Regions from separate parts of the Homo sapiens genome. Here all the other regions are linked to region 1. The links come from fine-mapping of genetic effects on gene expression. A gene starts in region 1. Each other region holds a variant in brackets. All regions are shown on one strand. Distances are from middle to middle.

Region 1 (4,084 bases):
TCTCAGAGGCAAGGCGCCTGTAACAAAGCCCGATCACTAATCATGTCCACCCCAGGCCTCCTGATGACCACACTGACACATGGCAGCCTGGTGGCCGGGCCAGTGGGGCTGAGTCTTCACTCACCCAACCCCAGCAGAGCCTCCTCTTGGGCATGGCCTTGGCCTTTCCAAGCCTCAGAGTGCAGCCTTCAGGGGTGGGCCCCAGTGAGAGGCCGAGAAGAAAGGGTGGGCTCTGGAGGTGGAGGGGCCTGACTTGTTTTACCCACAGGTTCAGGCTAGCCATGGCCACCCGAGGGGCTCACACATTCCCTCTGGTGACCAGCTGTGGGACTGCAGGAGTGGAGACAAAGTTTGGGGACTCCCAGTAAACAGTAGAAAAGAGGGTTCAACAGCTCCCAGGCCATTAATTTTCGAGTCTCCAGGCTTGGGGCCTGAAGGGCACACTTTGCTAAGGGTCTGAAGGGCCATGTGTGGGCTTGAGATGAGAGGCTGGCAGGGGTTGGGCCAGGACGATTCACTGTCCTTGTTCCCACAGGCCGAGCCTCTCCAGGCTGGAGCGCCAGCTGCCTGTGCATGGAGCCTGCAGATCTGGAACAATCTGCACTGTCGACACCCAGGGCCCCAGGACAGGGCTCTAAGGCCTCTCTTTTGTTCTCGAACCCTTGTGGGCCCACCAGCCCTCAGTTCCCTCAGTCCCACTCTCCCCAGGGAGCACCCCAAGCACTCCGCATGGGATTTCACAAGCACCTCCACGGTAACCTATCTCAAGTAGAACTCTGCACTAACTTCTTCCTCAAAACACAAAAACCTGGCTCACTGCCACCAGCCTGCCTCCCCACGGCCCCACGAGTGACTCACCCAGGATCCCACCCTCTCGGCACCCCCACCCCAGCTGCATCCAGTCCACAGCAAGTCCAGTCAGCGCTCCCTGCAAAGGCTCCCTGGCAACAGGAGTGTGTGCACTGCTGGGCGAGCGGGCCCCGCTGCCTCCAAGGCAACCACACCTGATCCGTTTCCAGGGGCCCACCACCCTTGGCCCTTCAGGAACACCCCACCCGGGTCCTCTGACCCTCACTTCCTCCTCATTCTCCAGGGACAGGCGAAGGGCCAGCGTGGAATTCACGTGAGGCTCAGGGCAGTGTTGGCCTCACTCAGACCTTTTCTTCCTTGGTGCTGGGTGTTCCCCAAGGTCAGGGCCACGCGCAGCACCGGTCCCAGGTGTCTGCTGAAGGAAGCCTCCTCCACTGGGGGTCCCACCTGCCACCCTCCCCTCTCTCCCCAGCTATGTGCAGGGGCCTCCAAAGCCACACCCTGGCCCCTTGACCGTCCCTCTCCAGAAACACTGATTACTGTTCTCCAAAACCCACCCGGGAGCCCACATCTACTGATTACGCCTGAGTCATTCGTTCACCAAGAAATATGCAGGGCTTCCTGCTTCAATTTGGGGAGGGCGAAGTGGTGCAGGACAGCGCCCCGATGGCCCCCTGGGAATCCAGAGAACATGCAGAGTGGGCGTGGGGGGTCTGGGCTGAGCAGAACCGGGCCTCCCGCCCTGCCTGCCCCAAAGCCCTGAGGGCTGCGGTCAGCTGCCCTTTCCCACTCAAACCCAATCTGGATTCCCAGCTCCTCTGCCTCAGGCCGCGCCCGCGCTGCGGTGGGGGCCGCCCGGGCCTCCCCGCCTGGACCCAACAGCCGACGTGGCCCCCGCCCCGTGACGATCAGAAACGTCTCCAAACAGCTCCCTCGGCCCTGGCTGCGGGACCAGCCCCGGGCCTGACCCCGGGCCACCCTCCCACTCCCCACGCGGGGGCACCGTGGCCTCCATGGGTTTGGCTCGGACCCTCTGTCCCCAGCCCGGCCACGCCCGCCCCCTGGGGTTGCCCTAAACCTGGCGGGGGGCTCCTCCGCCACCCGCCTCGCGTGTCTCAAGGCATGACAGGGGGTCCCGGAGAACCCTGCCTCGCCCGGGCCAGGAGGCGGCCCAGGGACGCCCACCCCGCTCCCCGGAGTCCGCGCGCCCTGTGGGGTCCGTCTGCTTGTGACACTAAGGGGCGCCCCGCGACGGGGGGGTGACGACCCCTACTCACACCACATTCCGCGCCATGGCGGCCACGCGCGCTTCCGGGGTCCGCGAGGCGGAAGGAGCAGCGCGCCCGCCCCGCACGGCCGCCGCCTGGCACAGCGCCCCCTCGCTTCCGGAGGCCGCGCCGCCCCCCCCGCACGCGCCAGCGCCCGTGCCGCGCGCCCGTGCCGTCCCCAGCCCTGCGCCCGCCCCGCCCCGCGCCGCCTTCTTCTCCCTCCCTGCCCCCCTCCTGTCCCGCACCCCACGTTCCTCCCCGCCCCGACCCCCACTCCCCGCGCCGCAGACTCCACAGGACGCGGGGCCGCAGCAGTCCCGCCCCGCACTCCCGGCCCCACAGCCTGAAGCCCGGGCCCGCGCCCCTGCTGCTCGCGCCCCGCCCACGCCCGCACCCCTCCCAGCCCCAGAGACCTCCCGCCGCCGTCGCACTCTTTCGGGCCTGTCTGCCCTGCCTCCCGGGACCCCGGCCTGCACGCCCCCCACACCCGTGCCCCTGCCCTTTGGCAGCTCCAGGCCACAGCCTGGCCCCGCACCGCTGCGCTTGCAGCTGCTGGGAGCTGGAAGTGGAGAACCGGGGCTGTAGTGCTGGGGAGGGCGGGTCCCCGGGCCTGGGGTCTGAAGCCCCTCTCTCCATCTGGCTGTTTTTACCCGGGAGCCCGGAACCCCAGGGCCCCTCACCTCGCCCTTCTGGCCAGCCCGGTTGGCAGCCCCCACGCTGGCCACACCAGCCACGCTGTCCATCCTCGGTGCTCCCACCACGCCTCCTCCAAGAGGGCCACTGGCCTCTTCAGGCCTTGCCGTTTGCTCACCCCCTCTCCACCCTTCTGGCCAGCCCCCTCCAGCCTCTGGCAAGGCCCTCTCTACAGGGACCCCCGTCCAAGGCCCAGTCCTCACTCCTTTCCTTGGGTAGTGCTGGCCAGGAGGGCTGCTGGGACCCTTCGGGAGTAGAGGGCAGCAGCCTCCCTCCCCTGTCCCCAGGCCTCTCCCTCCTCCCCTGGTTTCCTCTGCCTGGTGGCTGGATTCAGGCCACTTCTCCATCTATCTCTTTAACTGCCCGTGCCCCCCACCCCCAAGCCTGGCTTGTTCCCGCACCCAACAGCACCCTAAGTGTTCTTCAGAGCAAGAGGCAGGGGTGTCATGCTTCAGAGCAAGAAGCGGGGCCATGGGTCCTGGTTGTTGCTGGGGGCAGGGGGCCCAGGCCTGCAGGTGGGAACAGGGCTGCGGGAGGGCACTGGGGTTGATGGAAATTCAGGAGGAGGAGAGGGCACTGTGCCCCTCCGAGGGCCTGGGCCGGGTAGGGCTGGAGTTCCTCCTGATGGGTGGGTTTGAGTGGAAATGACTCCAGGGGGTCTATCTAGCATGAAGGCATTGAAGCAGGATGGAGTGAGAAGTGGGCCAGAGTGGGCAGGGAAGGTGGTGGCAGCCGTCCCCACTGTTGTCCAGGCCTGCGTGAGGTGGAGAAGCTCCAGGCTGCCAGTGGCAGGGTCCCAGGAGGCTGGTGACCAGACAGGCCTTTGCCCAGCAGCAGGTGCCCTTGGCCAGGCCCAAGGAGCAGACCGCAGGACAGGGATGGAGCTGGAGAAGGGGGGTCCTGGGGCCGGGGGTCCTCAGGCTTCCTTTTATGTTCATGCAATGCTGCCTCTTTCGGCAGCCACATTGTGCAGTGTGCTTAGAGATATGTGGCTGCTGGAAGTTGGGTTCAGAGTTGTGGGTGGCCGATGTGGAGAGGAGGGTGATTGGAGGCCGAGCTGTGGGTCACGGGTGGGTGCTGCTCAGATCACTGGGGCTGCTGGAGGGCGGCGGTTGAGCTAGGAGCTGAGGTCCTTCCTCAGGGCGAGGCAGGGGTGGGGTCACAATGGAGCAGACCCCTCACCACTCCTTCCATCCCTGTTTCTCTGATAGTCTGCTAATGGGATCCTCCGGAAGGCATGCTAAGTATGGGGGGTCTCTGAGATGCCTGGGGAGCCAGTGGAGACCTCCTCTTCCTCCTTCCCACCTGCCATT
Region 2 (4,084 bases), 41 kb after region 1:
CCAACATTCTAGTGAGTTTATTTGGGGGTGGGGGTGGGCGGGGGTGGGGAGATACTTGGCAAAAAGAAGCTGAAATTCGTACAGGAGAAACACGAAGGAACGGCCAAGAACATTTGGAACATCAGAGCCGAATTCAAAAGTGAAGGTGATGTAGCAGATTCATATTTAGAGCTCCCCGCAGACCAGCAGTCAGACAAAGCGTCTTTGGCCCTGGCCCTGTTAACTCTCACAGCAGGCTGAGGAGGTAGATGCTCTTATCCTTGGAGTCTTCCCAGAGAGCAAACTGAAGCTCAGAGGGGGTTGAACAAAATCCTGAAGGTCACACAGCTACGAGGCAGTGCAGTCAACTCTGAGACCGTGACTCCTGACTTCACAGCCACATCTTCTGTAGGTCGTAACACGGATCCTCATTCCACAATACCTATCCCGCAATGTTGTGTATGCACGGGAACCTGGGGGTGGCACGGTCGAGGGAGTCTGGCGGGGATATTTCATAAAAGAGGTCGAGAAAATCAGGTATGCACTGGGGAGGAAAAAAAGGCAGTGAGATTTGCTCTCCACATCAAATGCCAAAATACATTCCAGGTGAATTACAGAGGCTACGACATGTGAAAAAAAAAATGGTTAAAAATAAAGCTAGAGGCCGGGCGCGGTGGCTCACGCTTGTTATCCCAGCACTTTGGGAGGCCGGGGCGGTTGGATCACCTGAGGTTAGGAGTTCGAGACGTGCCTGGCCAACATGGCAAAACCCTGTCTCTACTAAAAATATAAAAAAATAAGCCGGGCATGGTGGCGGGAGTCTGTAATCCCAACTACTGGGGAGGCTTAGGCAGGAGAATCACTTGAACCCTGGAGGCCGAGGTTGCAGTGAGCCAAGATTGCGCCACTGCACTCCAGCCTGGACAACAGAGCGAGACTCCATCTCGAATAGATAAATAAGCTAGAGAGATGTGTGCTGCACACTTATCTGCTTTCATGCTGGGGAACAATGTTTCCAGCTTTAGAACAGTGGAAACATGATGGAAGAAAAGGGCAGCTCAGCCCATTTCACCACTTCACCATTTCAAGTTTCTGTCTATCCAAACATGTCCACCAAAATTAAAAGGCAGATTTCCACTCCTGGCTGAGATGGGGTAGCAGGGACTGGATTTATCTTCCTGCCTGAAACAACCAAACAGCAACACAGAACAGACAAAATACACAGGACAATGAAACAACCAAACAGCAACACAGAACAGACAAAATACACAACACAATGGCTCTCAAGATCCCACACGTGGGCCGTGCACAACAGTGCTTCCCGGGCTGGGAATTGGCCTCAGGGGCCTCTCGCTGCCCATGCACTTTCTGGTGGGTTTCCAGGCCTCAGTGCGGGAAGCGGGAGTTGAGGTGGAGCCCACAGAGTCCCTGAGCTGATGAGACAGAGCTGGGGGTCTCCAGGCAGCTGAAGTTCGTGAAGCTCAGAGAGCTGCCCAGAGAGAGAAGCTGAGACCCGAGAGTCCCCCTGGAGTATTAGGGACTGAGCCATCAGCACATCCCAGGGAAAACGTCCCAAGGCGGGAAAGCACAATCCGAAAGGACTAGAGAGACCAGTGCCGGGAGCTCACATGGACCTAGGAATTGTGTCTGCTCCCACCAGCCTCAGCAGAAAACCCTATCACGCACAGCGGTGGGGGGCTCAGAAACAGCTTGCCTCCATAGTGGGGAATAGTTAGCCCACACTATTCCAGACCTCCCTTACAAACGGTAAAAGTAATACTTGAAAGGATCAAACTGCTTGCAGATAAACAGCTACATTCCAGAACAAAGCTCAGGAATATTTGTGGAAATATAAAAGTATCTAGCTCCCACCCGAGTTAAAGTTTACAATGTCTGCATTCCAATAAAAAATTATCAAAAAGACAAAGAAGCAGGAAAGGGTGACCCATAAAAAAGAGGAAATATCAGTCACTCAGAGCCAACTGTGGGACGTTAAAGCTAACAACTAAAAACCCAAGTCAACCCCTAAAATAACAAAACAAAGAGTTACAGCGAAAAAGCCAGCAAACAAGATGATGTAACGAATAAAACTTCTCATGAACGCAAAAGGAGGCAGAAAAAGAGTAAAGGGGAGAAAAGAACAGATGTGACAAATAGAAAGCAAATAACAAGGTGACAGACTCTAACCTAACCATACCAGTAAGCACATTAAATATCAATGGGCTAAACTCCCCTATTAAGAAGCAGAGGGGCCATGCATGGTGGCTCACTCCTGTAATCCCAGCACTTTTAGAGGCTGGTAGAGGAGGATCCCTTGAGTCCAGGAGTTCAAGACCAGCCTGGGCAACAGAGGGAGAACTCATCTCTCCAAAAAAAAAAAAAAAAATACTTTAGCTGGGCGTGGTGGCATGTGCCAGTAGTCACAGCTACTCGGGAGGCTGAGGCAGGTGGATCCCTTGAGCCCTGGAGGTCAAGGCTGCCATGAGCTGTGATTGCACCAATA[C/T]ACTCGAGCCTGGATGCCAGTGAGACCCTGTCCCCCCCACAAAAAGAAAGCAGAGGTTGTCTGATTGATAAAAAAGCAAAGCCCAACTCTGTGCTGCCTGTAAGAAATATGGTTTAACTGGCCAGGTGTGGTGGCTCACACCTGTAATCCCAGCACCTTGGGAGCCCAAGGTGGTAGGATTGCTTGAGCCCACGAGGTCAAGAACACCCTGGGCAACATTTCTACCAGGGTTTGGTAGAAACCCCGTCTCTACCAAAAATACAAAAATTAGCCAGGCGTGGTGGCACACGCCTATAATCCCAGCTACTAGAGAGGCTGAGGCACGAGGATCGTTTGAACCCAGAAGGCGGAGGTTGCAGTGAGCTGAGATCACGCCACTGTACTCCAGCCTGGGCGACAGAGCGACACTCTGTCTCAGAAAAAAAAAAAAAAAAAAAAAGAGAGAAGGCCGGGCGCGGTGGCTCACGCCTGTAATCCCAGCACTTTGGGAGCCTGAGGCAGACGGATCACCTGAGGTCAGGAGTTCGAGAGTAGCCTGGCCAACATGGCGAAAACCTGTTTCTATTAAAATTTAAAAATTAGCTAGGTGTGGTGGCGTGTGCCTGTAATCCCAGCTACTCGGGAGGCTGAGTCAGGGAGAATTACTTGAACCTGGGAGACAGACGTTGCAGTGAGCTGAGATCGCGCCACTGCACTCCAGCCTGGGTGACAGAGCAAGACTCGGTCTCCAAAAAAAAAAAAAAAAAAAAAGAATTCTCAAGCAATGACCTTGCTCTCAGCTTAAGGAAAATAGAAAAAGAAAAGCAAATTAAACCCAAAGTGGGCAGAAGAAAGGAAATAGTAAACATCAAGTAGAAGCTGATAAAACAGAAAACAATAAATAATAGAACAAAATTGAGAAAACCAAAACTTGGTTCTTTAAGAATATCAGTAATCCTGATAAACCTTTAGCCAACTTGATGGGGAAGGGCCCGGGGAAAGGAGGAGAAGGATAGAAATTACCGATATCAGGAACAAGAGAGGCAGCGGGAGTACAGGTTCTGCAGAGATTAAAAGAATAAAGAGGCTGGGCGCAGTGGCTCTCGCCTGTAATCCCAGCACTTTGGGAGGCTGAGGTGGGTGGATCACCTGAGGTCAGGAGTTCGAGACTAGCCTGCCCAACATAGTGAGACCCCCATCTGTACTAAAAATGCAAAAATTAGCTGGGTGTGGTGGCACGCTGGTCTCGAATTCCTGGCCTCAAGTGATCCACCTGCCTCAGCCTCCCAAAGTGCTGAAATTACAGGTGTACAGATGTAAGCCATTGCACCTGGCCTTAAATTTCTTCTTTTTTTTTTCTTTTTTGAGATAGAGTCTTGCTCTGTCGCCCAGGCTGGAGTGCAGTGGTGCCACCTCTGCTCACTGCAACCTCCGCCTACCAGGTTCAAGCAATTCTCCTGCTTCAGTCTCTGGAGTAGCTGGGATTACAGGCATGCACCACCATGCCTGGCTAATTTTTTGTATTTTAGTAGAGACGGGGTTTCACCGTGTTGCCCAGGCTGGTTTTGAACTCCTGAGCTCAGGCAATCCACCCGCCTCGGCCTCCCAAAGTGCTGGGATTAC
Region 3 (4,084 bases), 160 kb before region 1:
TTTTGTTTTGAGACGGAGTTTCTTTTTTTCTTTTTTTTTTTTTGAGGCGGAGTCTCACTCTGTCACCCAGGCTGGAGTACAGTGGCACGATCCCGGCTCACTGCAAGCTCCGCCTCCTGGGTTCATGCCATTCTCCTGCCTCAGCCTCCCGAGTAGCTGGGACTACAGGCGCCCACCACCACGCCCGGCTAATTTTCTGTATTTTTAGTAGAGACGGGATTTCACCATGTTAGCCAGGATGGTCTCAATCTCCTGACCTCGTGATCCACCCACCTTGGCCTCCCAAAGTGCTGAGATTACAGGCGTGAGCCACCGTGCCTGGCCACATTGAGATGGAGTTTCACTCTTGTCGCCCAGGCTGGAGTATAGTGGTGCAATCTTGGCTGACTGCAACCTCCACCTCCCAGGTTCAAGTGATTCTCCTGCCTCAGCCTCCTTAGTAACTGGGATTACAGGTGCCTGCCTCCATGTCCAGCTAATTTTCATATTTTTAGTAGAGACAGGGTTTCACTATGTTGGCCAGGCTGGTCTCGAACTCCTGACCTCAGGTGATCTGCCTGCCTCGGCCTCCCAAAGTGCTGGGATTCCAGGCGTGCACTACCACGCCCAGCCCCGGTGCATTTGGTTATGATGCCTCTGTCGTTTCCTAAACTGAGGGACTGTAACATCACGGAGTCTCTAAAGGTCATGGGTTTCAGATTCTGCATTGCAGCTAAGCTTGAAGAAATGACACTTGTCAAGTTTTGGTGTAGTAGCAAAAAGAAAATCTACAAGCGCATAAGGCCATTAAAGTACCAGCGCCCCCCACCCCCCACTCCCAACCACGTATGTTCGTAGATGTCCTCATCTACATTCTTCCCATGCGCTGGCCAAAGCCTGCAGAGGCGTGATGGGAATCCGCTGCCTTCCAGCAAGCCACAGAGATTCGCAAAGTGCAAAGACATCTCACTCTTCTCACGGAACTTGCTTTGTTTTGAAAAGCCTAGTTGTCTTTTGTAAACAAATATTTTATGTTAATGTGTAGTAGTGAGTTTATTATTGCTGTTGTGATTTTACTGTTTTGTGTTCATTTGTTTCATATGGTTTTGAGTCAGGGTCTTGCTCTGTGGCCCAGGCCGGAGTGCAGTGGCACAATCCAGGCTCACTGCAGCCTCGACCTTCCAGGCCCAAGTGATCCTTCTGCCTCAGCCTCCCGAGTAGCTGGTGTGTGCCACTATACCTGGCTTTTTTTTTTAATTAAGGATATTTTAATGGCCTTATGTGCTTGTAGATTTTCTTTTTGATTACTCCTCCTTGTAATTCCAGCACTTTGGGAGGCCAAGGTGGGAGGATCACTTGAGCCCATGAGTTCAAGACCAGCCTGGGTAACATAGCAACATAGCCCAGGCTGGTCTTGAACTCCTGGGCTCAAGTGATCCTCCCGCCTTGGCCTCCCAAAGTGCTGGAATTACAGGCATGAGCCACCATGCCCAGCCTCTGTTGTGACTTTTAAATTAATTCATTTAACCTATTTTTAAAATTTCTAATATTTTAAATATTGAAATATTTCAATGTCTTAGTTGTAACTTCTAAGACAGTAAATATCAGCAGGGGTGACCCCGTATCAACCCACTCTCTTTAAGGACTTGTTCATAACTTTGGGGAATGCAAGAGGCCCTGAGGCCGGAACATTTGAGAACCGAGGTCGAAGAGCCCAGGCTTAGGGGCCAGTAGCTGTGCTTATAATTAGCAGAGGGGCAAGTGTTTTGACTGTTTCAAATCCTGGAGTGTTGCCTCGCTTTTCTGTTCCTCAGTGTCCCCCTGTGCAAAAGCGAGCACCTGAGCACGGGGCTCCCACCGGATGC[G/A]CGTGTAAACAGCCTGGCTCGGGTTTGTTCTCCACAAAGGGAGCTGCTGAGAGTGGCATTAAAAAGTGATGGACAGACGGTCCTTGGACAAGAGTAAAACTGGGTTAGGACTACAGAAAAATCACATGGAAAGCACAGTGAGTTCCCATGGACCTCCTGCCTCATGCGTCCACCACAGTTTCCCCTGTTATTCACATGTTGCAATATGTGGGCCTTCTCTTAGAATTGACCAGCCAGCACCAGCACACACTGAGGTCCAGGCTCACTCTAGGGGTTGTGCATTCTATGAGTTTGGACGCAAGTTATCATGCCCTATATCCACCATCAGACTATCAGACAGAGTAGTTTCACTGCCCCCACAGTCATGGTTCTGCACCTCTTCCTCCCTCTCTTCCTGCAAACGCTGGCAGCCACCGGTCTTTTCACTGTCTCCATAGCTTTGCCTTTTCGAGGACGTCATAGAGGTGGAATCCTACGGGCGTAGCCTTTGCAGAGTGGCTTCTCTCACTTAGTATCATGCATTTGGTGCTCCTCCATGTCTTCTTGCGGCTCACAGCTAACTTCTTTTTAGCACCGAATAACATTCCTCGGCATAGAGGTACCGCTGTGTGTTTACCCACTCACGCACTGAAAGATCTCAGTTGCTTCCAAGTTTTTGGTGATTATGAATAAAACTGCTATAAATACTTGTGAGCAGGTTTTTATGTGGATGTAAGTGTTCTCTTTGATTGAATTTTATTACAAATTACTAACACATTATCTCAAGACAATGCCTGAGGCAGCTCCTCTGTGCTCCTCTGCTGGAAGGGCTTCTGAGATCCTACGCTGTGGTTTTAAATTGTAGCGTTCTTTTTTTCTGGAGTTTTAATGTTCTTTGTGTAGGTTGCTGGTTCCACTTCCAGACTTCCACTTCTCCTCCCCAGCCTATATCTCCATCTTTGCATCAGTACCGTGAGGTTTTAATTATTGTTACTCTAGAACATGTTCTAACTTCTGGCAGGCTAAACTTTTCTGCTTTAAGCCCCTTCTATTTTAAAACATTTCTTTAAAACTTGCCTCACATCTTCCTTTCTGAACCTGGCTCACAGAGACCCCTTCCCCAACTCAATGCCACCAGAGTGAGCTTCTGCAGGCCTCAGCGCCCCAGCTGGGCTGTGGCAGCCCTTTGAAGGCCCTTGACCTGCCCAGCATGGCTGCCAGCTCCTGCCCACTCCCATTGTACCCCATGAGAAGCCCAGCTAGTTTGTGTGCTCTGGGCTGGGTCTTGGCAGCCTGGGTGGAGCAGCTGAGCCCACCGTGGCAGAGAAGGGTGTGTGCTGGGAGCCCACCCTCCTCTGACCTGCACGGCTCCACTGGTCAAGCGCGAAGCCCAGGGGTTCCTGGCGGGGGAGTTGCAGCCTGGCCGTTTCCTGGAGGGCTGGGACTGCCCAGCCCAGCCGAGGGCCTGGCTGCAGCGCCACCTTCTAGGCAGCCCGCATGCTGAGGCCCCAGCCCTCCCCTCATGTTCAGGGAAGACCAGCTGCTTCCTGTTTGTGTGAAGAATTCGGCTGTTTTCCCGAGTGGTGGGTGAGGGTCCAAGCACCCAGTGGGACGGTCGCTCCTCGTTTCTGTGGGGCCTGCTGTTCTGAGGAGAAACTTAATCACTTTGTTTTCTTGGTTTAGGTTTTGCTTTTTAATAATAAAAAAAAAAAAAGACCCAGCTTGTCTGCAGCCCCAGGGCCCTGTGACGTTCCTGGCATAACAGGCGTTACTTTTACACGGGCTGCTGCAGTGGGCGGCTGGCCGGGAGCTCCCGGGGAGGGCAGTGGGTCTCATGGACTCGGCCCTGCCCAGCTGGGCGTGGGCACCGCTGCCCGAAAGTGGGGGGGTCTGAAGGAGCCGACCCCTGCGTCCCGTGCTGGCTCAGCCGGGCTCCCTGAGGGCCCTGACCCTCTCCCAGCCATGGGTCAGTGCTGGGGAGAAGGTTCTCAGATGCCGGGGAGGCCTGGGAAGGAGAAGAGCCTGCAGGCTCCCTCAGCAAGGGCTGGCAGGTCTGGGAACCGCCAGGCCACCTGACTTCCAGGGCAGCCCCTCCGGGAGTCAACACCCGCCCCCTCTCCCAGAAACCCAAGCCAGGAAAGATGGGGGACAGAGCCCTGGCACCCCCACTCTTTCTGGCACTCTCCCCTCAGAGGCCTCAGCTGCTGGACAAGGTCCTGGGCTCCCTGGGTTGCCCTCTTGGCCCAGGCTGGGGATGGAGA
Region 4 (4,084 bases), 52 kb after region 1:
ATGGCGACAGGGACACCAATGTCTAAAGGGGGAAATCGTTAAATTAAGCTTGGCGTAAAGCTGCCTCCTGACATAGTTTATGTTCCGCCTTCTCCATCCACTGTGAACTGAAACCTCACTGGAGACGTAAACAGACTGAAGCCTTCCCTTGTGCCACTCACCAGGTTTCCGCTCATCAAGGGTGCCGGCCATTCCAACCGTGTTCAGATAAGGCAAGCATGGAGCTGCAGCCCCTCTGGCGGTTTCTGTGCTTTGCTTCCGTTTTCTGTGCCTCCTTTCCCTTTTCTGTCCACCAATCTTCAGCCACACGGCAGCACCAGAGCCTCTCTGAACCTATTTTGGTTTGGGGGCTGCCCCATTAGCGAGTGGTTCTTTGCTTAATTAAACTCTGTTAAATTTAATTTGTCTAAGGTTTTTCTTTTAACAGTACAGAAAAAGCATTTGAAAAATCCAACGTCGGTTCCTGATTTGTTTAAAAAACATCACTCAGTAAATTAGGAATAGAGGGAACTTCCCTAACCTAATACAGGATATCTATGAAAACCCCACAACCGATGGCGGAAGACTGAACAGTTTCTCACTAAGAACAGAAAGGAGGCTGGGATGTCCGCCCTCATCACCTCCGTCCAACATTGACCTGGAGGTTCCTGCTCGTGCAATTAGGCCCCCAAAAGAAATAAAAGCCATACAGACGAGAAAGGAAAAAGAAAACAATCTTATCTACAGATAACGTGACCATCTAACCCGATGGAATCAACAACAAAAGAAAAACCTGCAAGAACTACTCAGTGAGATTAACAAGGTTGTGGAATAACAAGACTGATATACAAAGTCCATTGTGTTTCTATAAAATGGTAATCAACTATCAGATATTGACATTAAAAATACCACTTCCTAACTGTATAAAAATAGACAATACTTAGAGGTCAATCTGACAAAAGATGTGAAAGACCTCCAAATTGAAAGAGTAAAAAATCCTTGGAAGAAGTGGAAGAAGACCTGAATAAATAGGGACATCCAAGGTTCGTGGATTAGTAAGTTCAATACTGTTAAGATGTCAACTCTCCCTGCATTTATAGAAATTCACAGGTCCATTCTAAAACACATATGGAAAAGCAGAGGAGGAGAAGAGCTAAAACAATCCGGAAAAAGAACACAATTGAAGAGCTAACATTCTAAGAATTCATATAAGACCAGTGTAAGCAAAACTTGAGTGATACTGGTGTAAAAATATTCAAGTAGATCCAAAAGAAAACGGTCCAGAAATCAGCTTACACACACAGACTGATGACTTTTTTTCAGGCAGGGTCTCACTCTGTTGCCCAGGCTGGAGTGCAGTGGTGCAATCTCTGCTCGCTGCAGCCTCAAATTCCCAGGCTCTAGGGATCCTCCCACCTCAGCCGCCCAAGTAGCTGGGACCGCAGGCACCCACCACCATGCACAGTTCAGACTTTTGACAAAGGTGCAAAGGCGACTCGGTGCACAACTGTAGCTTCTTCAAGAAACCATGCTGCAGCAATTTCATATTCTGGAACAACTGGATCTCCATATGCAAAAAGAAAAAGAAGAATAATTTGCATTCGTACCTCACACTATACACAAACATTAACTCAAAAAGGATCGTGGGTCTAAATGTAAAGCTGGAGCCATAAAAACACAGGAGAAAATCTTTATGGCTCTGGATAAGGCAAAGATTTCTCAGACATGATACCAAAAGCACAATTCCTAAAAGAACAAATTGACAAACTGAAATTCATCAAAAATGTTTAAAATTTGCTCTTCAGATGGTTAACGGTGAGAGGACAAGGCCACCAACCAGGAGAAAAATCTTTGCAAATCTATTTCATCAAGGATTGATTCAGAATATATACAAAGAACTCTCACGGTGGCTCA[C/T]GCCTGTAATCCCAGCACTTTGGGAGGCTAAGGCAGGCGGATCACTTGAGGTCAGGAATTCGAGACCAGCCTGAACAACATGGTGAAACCCCACCTCTACTAAAAATACAAAAATTAGCCCGGCGTGGTGGCAAATGCCTGTAGTTCCAGCTACCTGGGAGGCTGAGGCAGGAGAATCGCTTGAACCCAGGAGACGGAGGTTGCAGTGGGCCAAGATGGCGCCACTGCACTCCAGCCTGGGCAACAAGAGCAAAACTCCATCTCAAAAAAAAAAAGAAAGAAAGAACTCTCAAACTCAACAATAGGAAAACAAATAACCCAATTTTACAGCAACGGGCAAAAGATCTGAACAGATGCTTCCCCCAGCAAGATGTATCAGTGGTGAAGTAGCACGTGCAAAGCTGCACGGCACCCCTGGTGCCGGGAGACACGCAAGCCAAAATCACAGACCGCACCCTCCACGTCTAGGAAGGGCCAAAGTCAGCGAGATGAACCATTCCAACTGCAACAAGAAATGAGAGCTAGGCCGTTTCTGAACAAGTTTCACACACACCTCCCACGGCATCTAGTCGTTTTATTTCTAGGCCTCTCCCCAAGAGTAAAGGAAATGTATGTCCTTCTGAAAACCTGTGTGTGAATGTAAATGGCCACATTACTTTCCATCATTCAAAACTGGAAACCACCCTGATGTCCACCAAGAGACGAACAGATGAGCGGGTTGGGGTGTACCCATGCTGTGGCAATAAAAATGAGTGTTTACAACAGACACAGCAGCAAGCATGGATCTCAGAATAGTTATGCTACGTGACAGAAGTCAGACAAGGAGTGCGTGCGTGCTGCAGGATGCCATTTATGTAACACTGTAAAAAAGCACAAACCCTTGGGTGCAGGGCTCATGCCTGTAATCCCAGCACTCTGGGAGGTGGAGGCAGGGGGGGTCGCTTGAGCCCAAGAGTTTGAAGCCAGCCTGGGCAACATAGCAAGACCTCGTCTCTACAAAAAAAATCAAAAACTTAGCCAGGTGTGGTGGTGGGCACCTGCGGTCCCAGCTACTTGGGAGGCTGAAGCAGGAGGATCCGTTGAGCCCAGGAGGTTGAGGCTGCAAGGAGCTCTCATTGTGCCACTGCACTCCCAGCCTGGGAAACAGAGTGAGGCTCTGACACACACACACACACACACACACACACACTCCCACACTCCCAGCCTGGGAAACAGAGTGAGGCTCTGACACACACACACACACATTCCAGCCTGGGAAACAGAGAACTTGTCACACACACACATACACACAAACACACACACACTCCCAGCCCGGGAAACAGAGTGAGGCCCTATCACACACACACACACACACACTCCCACACTCCAGCCATCCACCCACCCACCTACCCATCCACTCATTCATCCCTTCCTCCATCCATCCTTCCCGCTCTCTGTCCATCCATTCATCTATCCCTTCACCCATCCATCCACCCACCCATCTACCCATCCACTCATCCATCTCTCCATTCATCCATCCACCTATCCATTCACTCACTCACCTATCTATCTATCCGTCCTTTCATCCATCCTTTCATCTACCCATCCACACATCCATCCCTCCATTCATCCATCCACCTATCCATCCATCCACCTGTCCATCCACTCTCATCCATCCCTTCATCCATCCATCCATCTACCCATCCATGCATCCATCCCTTCATTCATCAATCCCTCCATTATCTATCTATCCATCCATCCAACCACCTACCCATCCCTTCATTTATCGCTCCTTCCATCCATCCATCCACCCACCCACCTACCCATTCACTCACTCATCCCTCCCTCCATCCCCCCTCTCTCCCTCTGTCCATTCATCCAGCCATCCCTTCATCCATCCATCCACTCATCTACCTATCCACTCATGCATCCCTCCTTTCATCCATCCACCTATCCATTCACTAACCCATCCATCCATCCATCCAGCCAGCCAGCCAGCCAGCCAGCCATCCTCCCACCCACCCATCCATTCACCCACCTATTCACCCACTCATCCATCCATTAGTCCATCCATCCACCCACCTGCTTACCCATTCACTCATCCATACATCCCTCTATCCATTCATCCATCCCCTATTCATCCACTCACCCATCCCTCCACTCACCCACCCAACCATTCATCCACTCACCCACCTACCCATCCATTCACCTG
Region 5 (4,081 bases), 96 kb after region 1:
CCTGTCTCGGCTTGGGTCAGGGTGTTGTTTTTTAATCTGTTGCTACAAGAGGAGAGGAAGAAAAAAAAAAAAACCCAAACCACCCCTCAGGAAGCGTTAAGCAAGTTACAGGGGCCTGGGGTGACAGAGACGGGGTGCGAGGGCCAAGATGGCCGCAGGCAGCTCTTCATGGCTCGGGGAGGGGGACCCATGTTACCCCTGGTCCCCGCTAGTAGCTCTGGCCATCAGGTCCACCTGTGAGTGGCCAGTTCTCCTGCAGCATCAGGGACAAACACGTCTGTGATCCCATAAGCACCACGTGAGCGTTTTAGCTTCTTTGGGTGAAATCTACCCAGAGGCCGGCTCTCCTACAGGTGCTCATGGAACTTGGTGGAGTCTTTTCTCGAAGCCTGGGGTCATAGCCTTGAGCACATCAAACAGCTGTGGGTCCCAGGTGGCTTTGGGGGCTGTGCCCGGGATGCCCCTGCGTTCTACCCGTCGGGTGCCTTGTTCTGTCTTGGACTGCCTTGCTGATGCCGAGCTGTCGGGCATCCGCCTCGTCCCCCCGCTGCCCCTTGCTCTCCGTGCTCTGGTCGCTGGAGTTGACCACCGAGTGGTTCGTGTCCCCAGGCTCTAAAGGCAGTGCCTCAGGGACCCTCCCAAGAGGCATAGGCCAGCCCGAGGGGAGGGATGGAGGCTGTTTCCAGCCCTCACTGTCCCCAGCTTCTGGGAGTGACCACGCAGTGGCTCCAGGGTCAGGAGGAGGGATGCATGACTGCAGGAGCCAGACCCCAAAAGCTGAGGCAGGGGAGGACTTAAGCTGGGCCAGAGTAGGGCAGCCACAGAGGTGGCGAAGGCTTCCCTGCTGGAAACCTCAGCGCAGGAGAATGGGAGAAGGGAGCCCTGGCCAGCGGCTGGGCCTGAGAAATCCAACCAGCAAGGACTTACAGGGGGTCCCAAGGCAAAGAGGGGCTGGAGAGAGGCCAGGGGTTGGGAGGGCCCTGGGCCCAGAGTGTTGACCCATCAGGGTGGGGCCGAACCGGAGGCCGCCTCCTTGGGACTCAGCGAGCCCCCCACCCACCAAACACACCACAAAGACCAGCAGAGGCTTTCAGAGCCCCACGAGTGGAGGCACCAGAGGGATCCGTGGCCCAGACGATGGGCAGGGCTAAAACCAGATCAGGCCCAGCGCCATGGAGATGAACAGGCCATGCCTGTGTCTTCCCCACGCCTCCTCCCTGGGGGTCCCTAAGGGCCCCCAAGTCCCCCTTGCAGAGTGGCACATGGCAGAGCCCTGCGGTTCTCACCATGCGGCCTCCATCCTGAGGCCATCCTGAAACGGCTCCCCTCATGGTGGTAGGGTCTCGCCTCCAGGTTGCAGCCATTCCGCTCACCCACCCGTCCAGGCACTGCATCGGCAGGTGCAATGCCTGTGTCCTCCTGCCCTTGAGGTCCTTCCCTTGGCCTGCAGAAGGGCAGCCCCAGCATCGTCGCTGGGAGCTTCAGGAACCTTGCCAGGAAGAGGACAGGCAGGTGGAGGCTGGGGTCCACCCCCTCCTGCCCTCTACTGCCCGAAGGCTGGACCGGCTGCCTCACTTTTGGAGCTAGAGCAAAATGAGAATGCAGAACCCTGTGGTTCAAAAACTGAGAATTTTGGCCGGGTGCGGTGGCTCACACCTGTAATCCCAGCACTTTGGGAGCCCGAGGCAGGTGGATCACTTGAGGTCAGGAGTTTGACACCAGCCTGGCCAACATGGTGAAACCCCATCTCTACTAAAAATATAAAAATCAGCCAGGCGTGGTGGCGGGCGGCTGTAAGCCCAGCTACTCGGGAAGCTGAGGTAGGAGAATCGCTTGAACTTGGGAGGCGGAGTTTGCGGTGAGCCAAGATCGTGCCACTGCACTTCAGCCTGGGCGACAGAGCTAGACTCCATCTCAAACAAAACAAAACAAAAACAAAAAAACCCTAAGAATTTCAAGAGGGAGACACAGAGCACAAAACCACACTCAGCCCCAGGTCTACGAAGCCGCTCGGGCGGAGG[G/A]GGAGGCCCACAGGCCCTGGAGCTGAAGGCTGGGGTGACGATCGGCCTGCCCCAAGGGCTTGGAGAGTGTGCCCTCCTCCCCTCTGCCTACCCAACCCTGTTGAAGCTGAATCATGCCCCTCACCCACATTCATATGGTGAAGTTCTAACCCTACCCCTAGCCTAACCCCTCAGAGCGTGACCGTGTTTGGAAGCGGAGTTGCTTCAGGTGTCATTAGCTGGATGAGGTCACGGTGGAGGAGGGTGACCGCTCAGCCAGTGTGACTGGTTTCCTTACAAAAAGAGGAAATGTGAGCCAGGCACGGTGGCTCACGCCTGCAATCCCAGCATTTTGGGAGGCCGAGGCGGGCAGATCACGAGCTCAGGAGATCAAGACCATCCTGGCTAACACGGTGGAACCCCATCTCTACTAAAAATACAAAAAAAAAAAAAATTAGCCGGGCATGGTGGCATGTGCCTATAGTCTCAGCTACTTGGGAGGCTGAGGAAGGAGAATGGCGTGAACCCGGGAGGCGGATATTGCAGTGAGCTGAGATCATGCCACTGCACTCCAGCCTGGGTGACAGAGTGAGACTCTGTCTCAAAAAAAAAAAAAAAAAAAAAGAGGAAATGTGGACACGGGACACAGACACCCACGGTGGGGAGCTCCCCATGAGAAGACAGTGGAGATGAGGGTGAGGCATCCACAAGACAGTTGCACCAAGGGGCACCGGGACCCCCAGCAGTGGGAGAGGCCTCAGGAGAACCAGTCCTGCCCACCCCAGGATCTCGGACTTCCAGAATGTGGGAGCTCAACGTCACGGCAGCCACAGGGCAGCAGGACAACCCCTCCAGCGACACGTCTCACAAGCAGGCCACGGCGTGGGGGAGCCCTGCCTGTTCTCAAGGAACCCAGGCCGAGGAATAGGCACACTCCAGGATGCTCACGGGGCTCTGGGAGGCCTTCTCAGCAGATGTACGCCCTCACCTCCCGAATCGCAGAGGAAAGGGAAGCCAGGGTGCAGGGTGTCCTCCTGTGGCCGTCCAGCCCTCTCTCCTGCCCACATCACCGTCGTGGAGAAGGCAGACTCTTGCTCTCTCACTCAGCTACTCCTCCGCAGACGCCAGGGCCATCTTGCGGCCCATCCACCTTCCTCCCGGTCCCCCAGCCTCTCCTCCCTACACCCTCCACGTTGATGTGCAAATCACTCAACCTTTTCACAAAAAAACAAAAGCAAAGAGCATCCCGGAGGCTGCCCAGCCCATGTGGCCGCCCGCTTCTCACTCCTTCCCTCCCTGGCCAAGCCCCTGCCTCCAGCCCTTCTCTCCACTCAGCCTGGACTGGCAGGCGTGGGCAAGGGAGGAGGTGTCCCCAGTGAGGGCCCAGCCACCCCTCAGGCCGTCCGGGCATTTCTGTGTGTGTGTGTGTGTGTGTGTGTGCGCACGAGCGTGTGTGACAGGGTCTTGCTCTGTCACCCAGGCTGGAGTGCAGTGGTGCAACCAGGGCTTACTGCAGCCTCTACCTCCTCGGCTCAAGTGATCCTCCCGCCTCAGCCTCCCAAATAACTGGGATCACAGGTACATACCACCACGCCCAGCTAATTAAAAAATTTTTTGTGTGTACAGATGGGGTCTCACCATGTTTCCCAGGCTGGTCTTGAACTCCTGGGCTCAAACCATCCTCCTGTCTCAGCCTCCCATAGTGCTGGGAGTACAAGCATGAACCACTGCACCCGGGCAGTGCATGCGTGTTTGAGAACGGTGTGGGCCTTGCTGGGTGGGAGGTTAAACAGGAACAGAGCCTTCCTCTGAAGAGCTAAGAGTCTACCCAAGAATCAGATGCAGAATCATTTCTTCCCTCAGTGCCTGAAACTCTAAGGGAGGTGTGTGGAGGGCAGACCCCGGCCCCTCCGTTGTCCTGTCTCCAAATCTGGTGCAGGGTCCAGCGAGCAGCACGGGGACCAGCAAGCGGCTGCATCAGGTGATGAGTTAGTTTGGATTCTGGGATGGAGCCAGCTGAGGGCATCAGATTCCGGGGGATGGAGCCAAGCAGGGAAGCCTTGAGGGGTGAGCCAGGAGGA
Region 6 (4,084 bases), 28 kb after region 1:
GGCAAGACGTTTCTGCCCAGAAACCCAAGACGTGGGTGAGGCGGGTGTGACAGCCCAGCCCTCCTTGGCCCACAGCTGCCCCCTCACCCTCGGGCACCCAGGCCCTCCCCAGCTCCTCATATTTCCCTCCTGTCCCCCCAGGCCAGAGTCACATGGGTGCCCCAACACCCTCAGGCAGGGTGACCTCCAGGCCCCCCGACGTGCGCTGGAAAGGCCCACTCTCCAAGTGGGGAAACTGAGGCACCTGGTTTTCTGCTGAGCGCCTGGAAGCAACACAAGGCTGTTCTGTTCCCCCCAGTATGGCCTGTGTCATTGCCTCTGTTGCGGGGAGGGGCTGGTGGCAGGGGTGTGCTGGGGGCAGGGGTGTGCTGGGGGCAGGGGATGGCATTTCAACAGCTGAGACGCAAAGCAGGTGTCCAGTTAGTGCCTGCCTTGGAGGGGCTGCGTGAAAATAACCTATGCGGTCAGTTTCTTCGGGCACGTATGCATCACCTTTCCCTCCTTGGGAGGTGACGGGGCCAGGGCAGGGTGGGGAGGCAAAAGCCGCTGCCCCTTGCTTGCTGTGGCCCTGACCATGCCCCCAGACCTGTTCTCCACCCAGCCAACCTTTGCTTTGCCCCATGTCCCTCCGTGGACTTCAGGAGGGGCAGCCAAGGCCTGATCAGACGGCACAAGTCAGGGGGACCGTGTCCAGGGCAGGGAGGGTGGGTGGGGGCTCTTACGAGCGCCAGCTTCTCCAGCCTCCAGCCAGGGGGACGCGATGAAGCCCAGCCCCTCACTCTTGCCCCGTCCTGCCCCAGTCCAGCCCCTGTCCACTTCTGTCCTGCACCTCCAGACGCTGGCCCCCAAGGCTGCGTGGGCTTTAGACGCCCCCACCCCAACACACTCGGGCTGGCCATACAGGAGCCCCTGCCCTCCTGTCCTCGTTTTCATCTCTACAAAATGGCGGTGTTGGAGGCCCAGGTGCGAGAGCTGCATGGCAAGGCCAGGACGGGCCTGGGCAAATGTCTGCATGGCGACCACAAGCTGGCAACCTAAGCCCTGGCAGCACCCCTGCACAGCCTCTTCCCTGCCGCTCACAGCCCGCACCTCTCTGCCTCCTGCCCTCAGGCCACTCCCTAGCACTGAGCTTCCCTGAGCCCCGACTTGCCCCCTCCTGGCCTCCCACACTCTGCCTTCTTCTGCATCCTCCCGGTGCTGAGACCATCACACCACCATGTCCGCATCCCAGACTCTCCGGACGCTGGAGCAGCCACCTGGGGGCTCCGAGCCATGATGCTTCGAGATGCTCGGCACCACACGGACCTGGGACCTCAGCGCCCCAGGACCCCAGAGTGTCCCTGGAACGAGGGGCTGTCCACCCGCACGCAGGAGGCCCCGTCGGCCCCAGTCCTGGGTGGCCGCTCCTGCCTATACCCACCTGCGGGTCGAGTGTGAGAAGGGCTGGAGCTCCCTGTGGACAGCACCGGCTGCAGGCACTGGCGCCCGGCTCACACCCTCGTGTTATAGTGACATTTGATCTTCCTAGGAGCCCATTGGCCAGTGACTGGGTGGCCGGGGTGTGTGCGGAGTCTTGCTGGGGGGGGCTATGCCCGTGCAGGCCCCTTACCAAGTATAGGAATGGCCAGAGGAGGAGGCTGAAGGAGGCCAGGATGCAGAGGACGTGCTTGGAGAAGGAGGCAAGGTCCTCCCTCCGCCTCCAGGAGGTGTCAGCTGCTATTTTTACTCCCAGCAGCGGGTACATTCTGGATGGGCTGAGGAGGGAGGAGGAAGGTGTTGGGTGGCCCCGGGGCACCAAGCCGAGGCTCTCTTTGGGCCAAACTAGTGTGGGGGTCCCCAGAGCCAGGCTGCCGGGTTTCCCACCCCCCCGCCCCTTCTCTCTGAGATGTTCTGTGGGAGTAAACATTTGTCCAGGAAAAGGGTCCGCACAGCCGGGGTCCCCTCCCGCCGCCCGGCCCAATGCCCCAGGCCCTT[C/T]GCTGTCTCCCCCGGGGAGGAAGCAGCCTGAGGCCTCGGAGACCCCCCATGGAACTGAGGCCAGGCCCCCACCCTATCTGAGACCCTCTTAGAGGCCAGCTCTGCTTTCCTGGCTAGACACCGTTGGGGCCTACACAATAAGCGGGCGAGGGACATGGCCAGGCTGGCTGCAGTCCGAGTCTGCCATACCTCCCCCCGGGGCTGCTGCCATTGCAGGGGGCTACACATGGAGTTTGCTGGGTAAGGGTCTGGGTCCTCCCTCTAGGCCCTTTCTAACCCTGGGGCCCCACCCTGGGCACTCGCAGTGGCCGTTACCATCTGTGCCAGCATCTCCCACAGGCTCATTGTGGCGTGTGGAGACTGGTTTTCTTTCCTCAGGACTCCAGGTGGCACCGTCCGACTAGCAGACATCCTTCCTGGCCTCTGATGGCCTGTATGCTGGCCAGTGAGGCCACCAGATTGGATAACCCTGCCTCTTGGATCAGGGAAACTGAGGCACCAGGTGGGGGAGAGCAGTCTGGCACCCTGACCCACCCCCTCACTCCCCTCAGACCCCACAGGCTGAGCGTGGGCGGTGGTGTCTGCGGAACTCTTCGGTTCAGGCACAGATTGGTTCCTTCTTGGCCAGCGCCCAGGACAGGGGTGAGTCCCGAGAGGCACAGATGAGGTCCCTGTCCTCCCCAGGCTTAGAGTCAGGGACAACAGGATAACCCGGCAGGGGCTCACAGTGCCCTGGGGCCGGGTCGGGGGCCTTCCGGAAGGCTGTGGTTGGCACCTCATTCCACCCCTCCATGGAAGAGCGAGGCCGCAGAGCCCAGGGACAGGCAAGGTGTGCCTGGGGTCACACGACAAGGCGGGCTGGCCCCAGGCTGCCATTTCAAAGGACAGGGCCGGTCCCCTGCCTGCCTCCCGCTGAGTGCCCGGCACTGGGAAGGCTCTTGGAGCTGGGGTTGCTGGGAACGTCGCCGTCCTCCTGCTCTGGGTCTGTGGCTTCGTCTGCATTCCACGCCTTCCCCTCCCTGTCCATGTCCTCGATGGGCAAGGCTTTGGGGGCCACAAACAGCCCTGGCCCCTGGATATCTGTGACCAGCTTCCTGCCCACTGGGGACATCTGCAGAACTGCTCCCTCAGAGGCACGTGAGCGGGTCCCTGGGGGTCAGCGGGCCCACCCCATCCTCTCCCATGGTGGGGCCAACCTCCTTTTCCAGGCTCGCTCTGCCGGCTTCTCTAACGGAGCCCTGAGCCCACCATTCTGGTTACACGTGGTTCAGTCTGCAGGCCTAGGAAGCCTGTGCCCACCCAAGCCCTCACCCAGGCCAGGGGTCCTGAGGGGCGCACCTGAAGGTGGGTGTGCCATAACCCTGCACTGGCCCCGTGTGGCCAGCAGGGGAAGGTGCTGCCCGCCCAGCTCCTGGAGCTTTGGCAGGCGCTCTCCGCCCAGCCAGCTGAGGTCAGAGGGATAGGGCAGGTTTTATTTTGGGTATCGGCGACCTCCCCCTCGGGCGCTGGGCCTGAGGCGTAGCAGGGACTGCACAGAGCAGGCACCAGCGGCCTCGAGGGCCTGCACCAGGTAACCCATGCCCTGCTGCCATCTGGCCGGACCGGGATGGTCCAAGGAGAGGAGGCAGGGCAGGGGCCTCCTGGGGGACTGTAGACCTGGGTGGGGGCAGGGCACAAGGGAGGCCCAGCCTGGGTTGGGGACGCATTTCCACCCAGGAGGAGTCTGAGGACGGACCACGGGGCCTTGGCTCTAGGGCAGTTGTTGGGGGATGGGGGGGTTCTGAAATTGGCAAATGCTGAGCCAAGCCCAGGGAGTGGGGAGCAGGCTGTGGGAGGGAGGATGGCCTCCTGAGTGTCTTGGCTGCAGCTCCCTGCCTGGGTGGCCCCCAGATGGTGGCCGGGGCCCCTCAATCTAGGTCCCAGCACCCAGTGCGCATGGTTGGGGGTGGTGGAGACCAAGAGGGTCCTGAGCCTCTCCTCATGCCCTGAGCTGACCTGAGCCCCCAGGCTGGATCCAGCCTGAGGCCGCTCGGCCCAGCTGTGGGCTCAATCACTGCCAGGCCCAGGACAGGAGCAGCTGACACAGCACTTGGGAACTGAGCTGCTCCAG

The links.
Region 2: its variant is fine-mapped to the expression of MRPL23 in whole blood (TOPMed, PIP above 0.99).
Region 3: its variant is fine-mapped to the expression of MRPL23 in whole blood (INTERVAL, PIP above 0.99).
Region 4: its variant is fine-mapped to the expression of MRPL23 in whole blood (TOPMed, PIP above 0.99).
Region 5: its variant is fine-mapped to the expression of MRPL23 in whole blood (INTERVAL, PIP above 0.99).
Region 6: its variant is fine-mapped to the expression of MRPL23 in whole blood (TOPMed, PIP above 0.99). The same link has a PIP of 0.9 or more in cerebellar hemisphere, cerebellum, fibroblasts, subcutaneous fat, thyroid and tibial artery.

The regions. Positions count from the first base shown.
Region 1 is chr11:1,945,383-1,949,466 of GRCh38, reverse strand. It overlaps MRPL23 (mitochondrial ribosomal protein L23), which reads right to left and starts at 2,135. Exons shown (of 5, transcript NM_021134.4): 1 at 2,088-2,135. The coding sequence starts at 2,104. SNORD131 (small nucleolar RNA, C/D box 131) reads right to left here and starts at 136; the gene lies at 1-136. RefSeq lists an enhancer at 1-206.
Region 2 is chr11:1,904,271-1,908,354 of GRCh38, reverse strand. LINC01150 (long intergenic non-protein coding RNA 1150) reads right to left here. Exons shown (of 4, transcript NR_120534.1): 4 at 1-523. It also overlaps a transcript of PRR33 not described here. Among named protein-coding and RNA genes, the nearest start is that of LINC01150, 9.6 kb to the right of the region's middle. RefSeq lists enhancers at 867-1,366, 1,367-1,868. The variant C/T (reference allele first, on the strand shown) is at 2,483.
Region 3 is chr11:2,108,927-2,113,010 of GRCh38, reverse strand. No RefSeq gene overlaps it. Among named protein-coding and RNA genes, the nearest start is that of MIR483, 23 kb to the left of the region's middle. The variant G/A (reference allele first, on the strand shown) is at 1,845.
Region 4 is chr11:1,893,223-1,897,306 of GRCh38, reverse strand. It overlaps LINC01150 (long intergenic non-protein coding RNA 1150), which reads right to left and starts at 548. Exons shown (of 4, transcript NR_120534.1): 1 at 162-548. It also overlaps a transcript of PRR33 not described here. RefSeq lists an enhancer at 1-487. The variant C/T (reference allele first, on the strand shown) is at 1,894.
Region 5 is chr11:1,848,914-1,852,994 of GRCh38, reverse strand. No RefSeq gene overlaps it. Among named protein-coding and RNA genes, the nearest start is that of LSP1, 2.1 kb to the left of the region's middle. RefSeq lists enhancers at 1-139, 1,131-1,180, 2,527-3,513. The variant G/A (reference allele first, on the strand shown) is at 2,022.
Region 6 is chr11:1,917,099-1,921,182 of GRCh38, reverse strand. TNNT3 (troponin T3, fast skeletal type) reads right to left here and starts at 1,480. Exons shown (of 16, transcript NM_006757.4): 1 at 1,421-1,480. It also overlaps a transcript of PRR33 not described here. The variant C/T (reference allele first, on the strand shown) is at 1,975.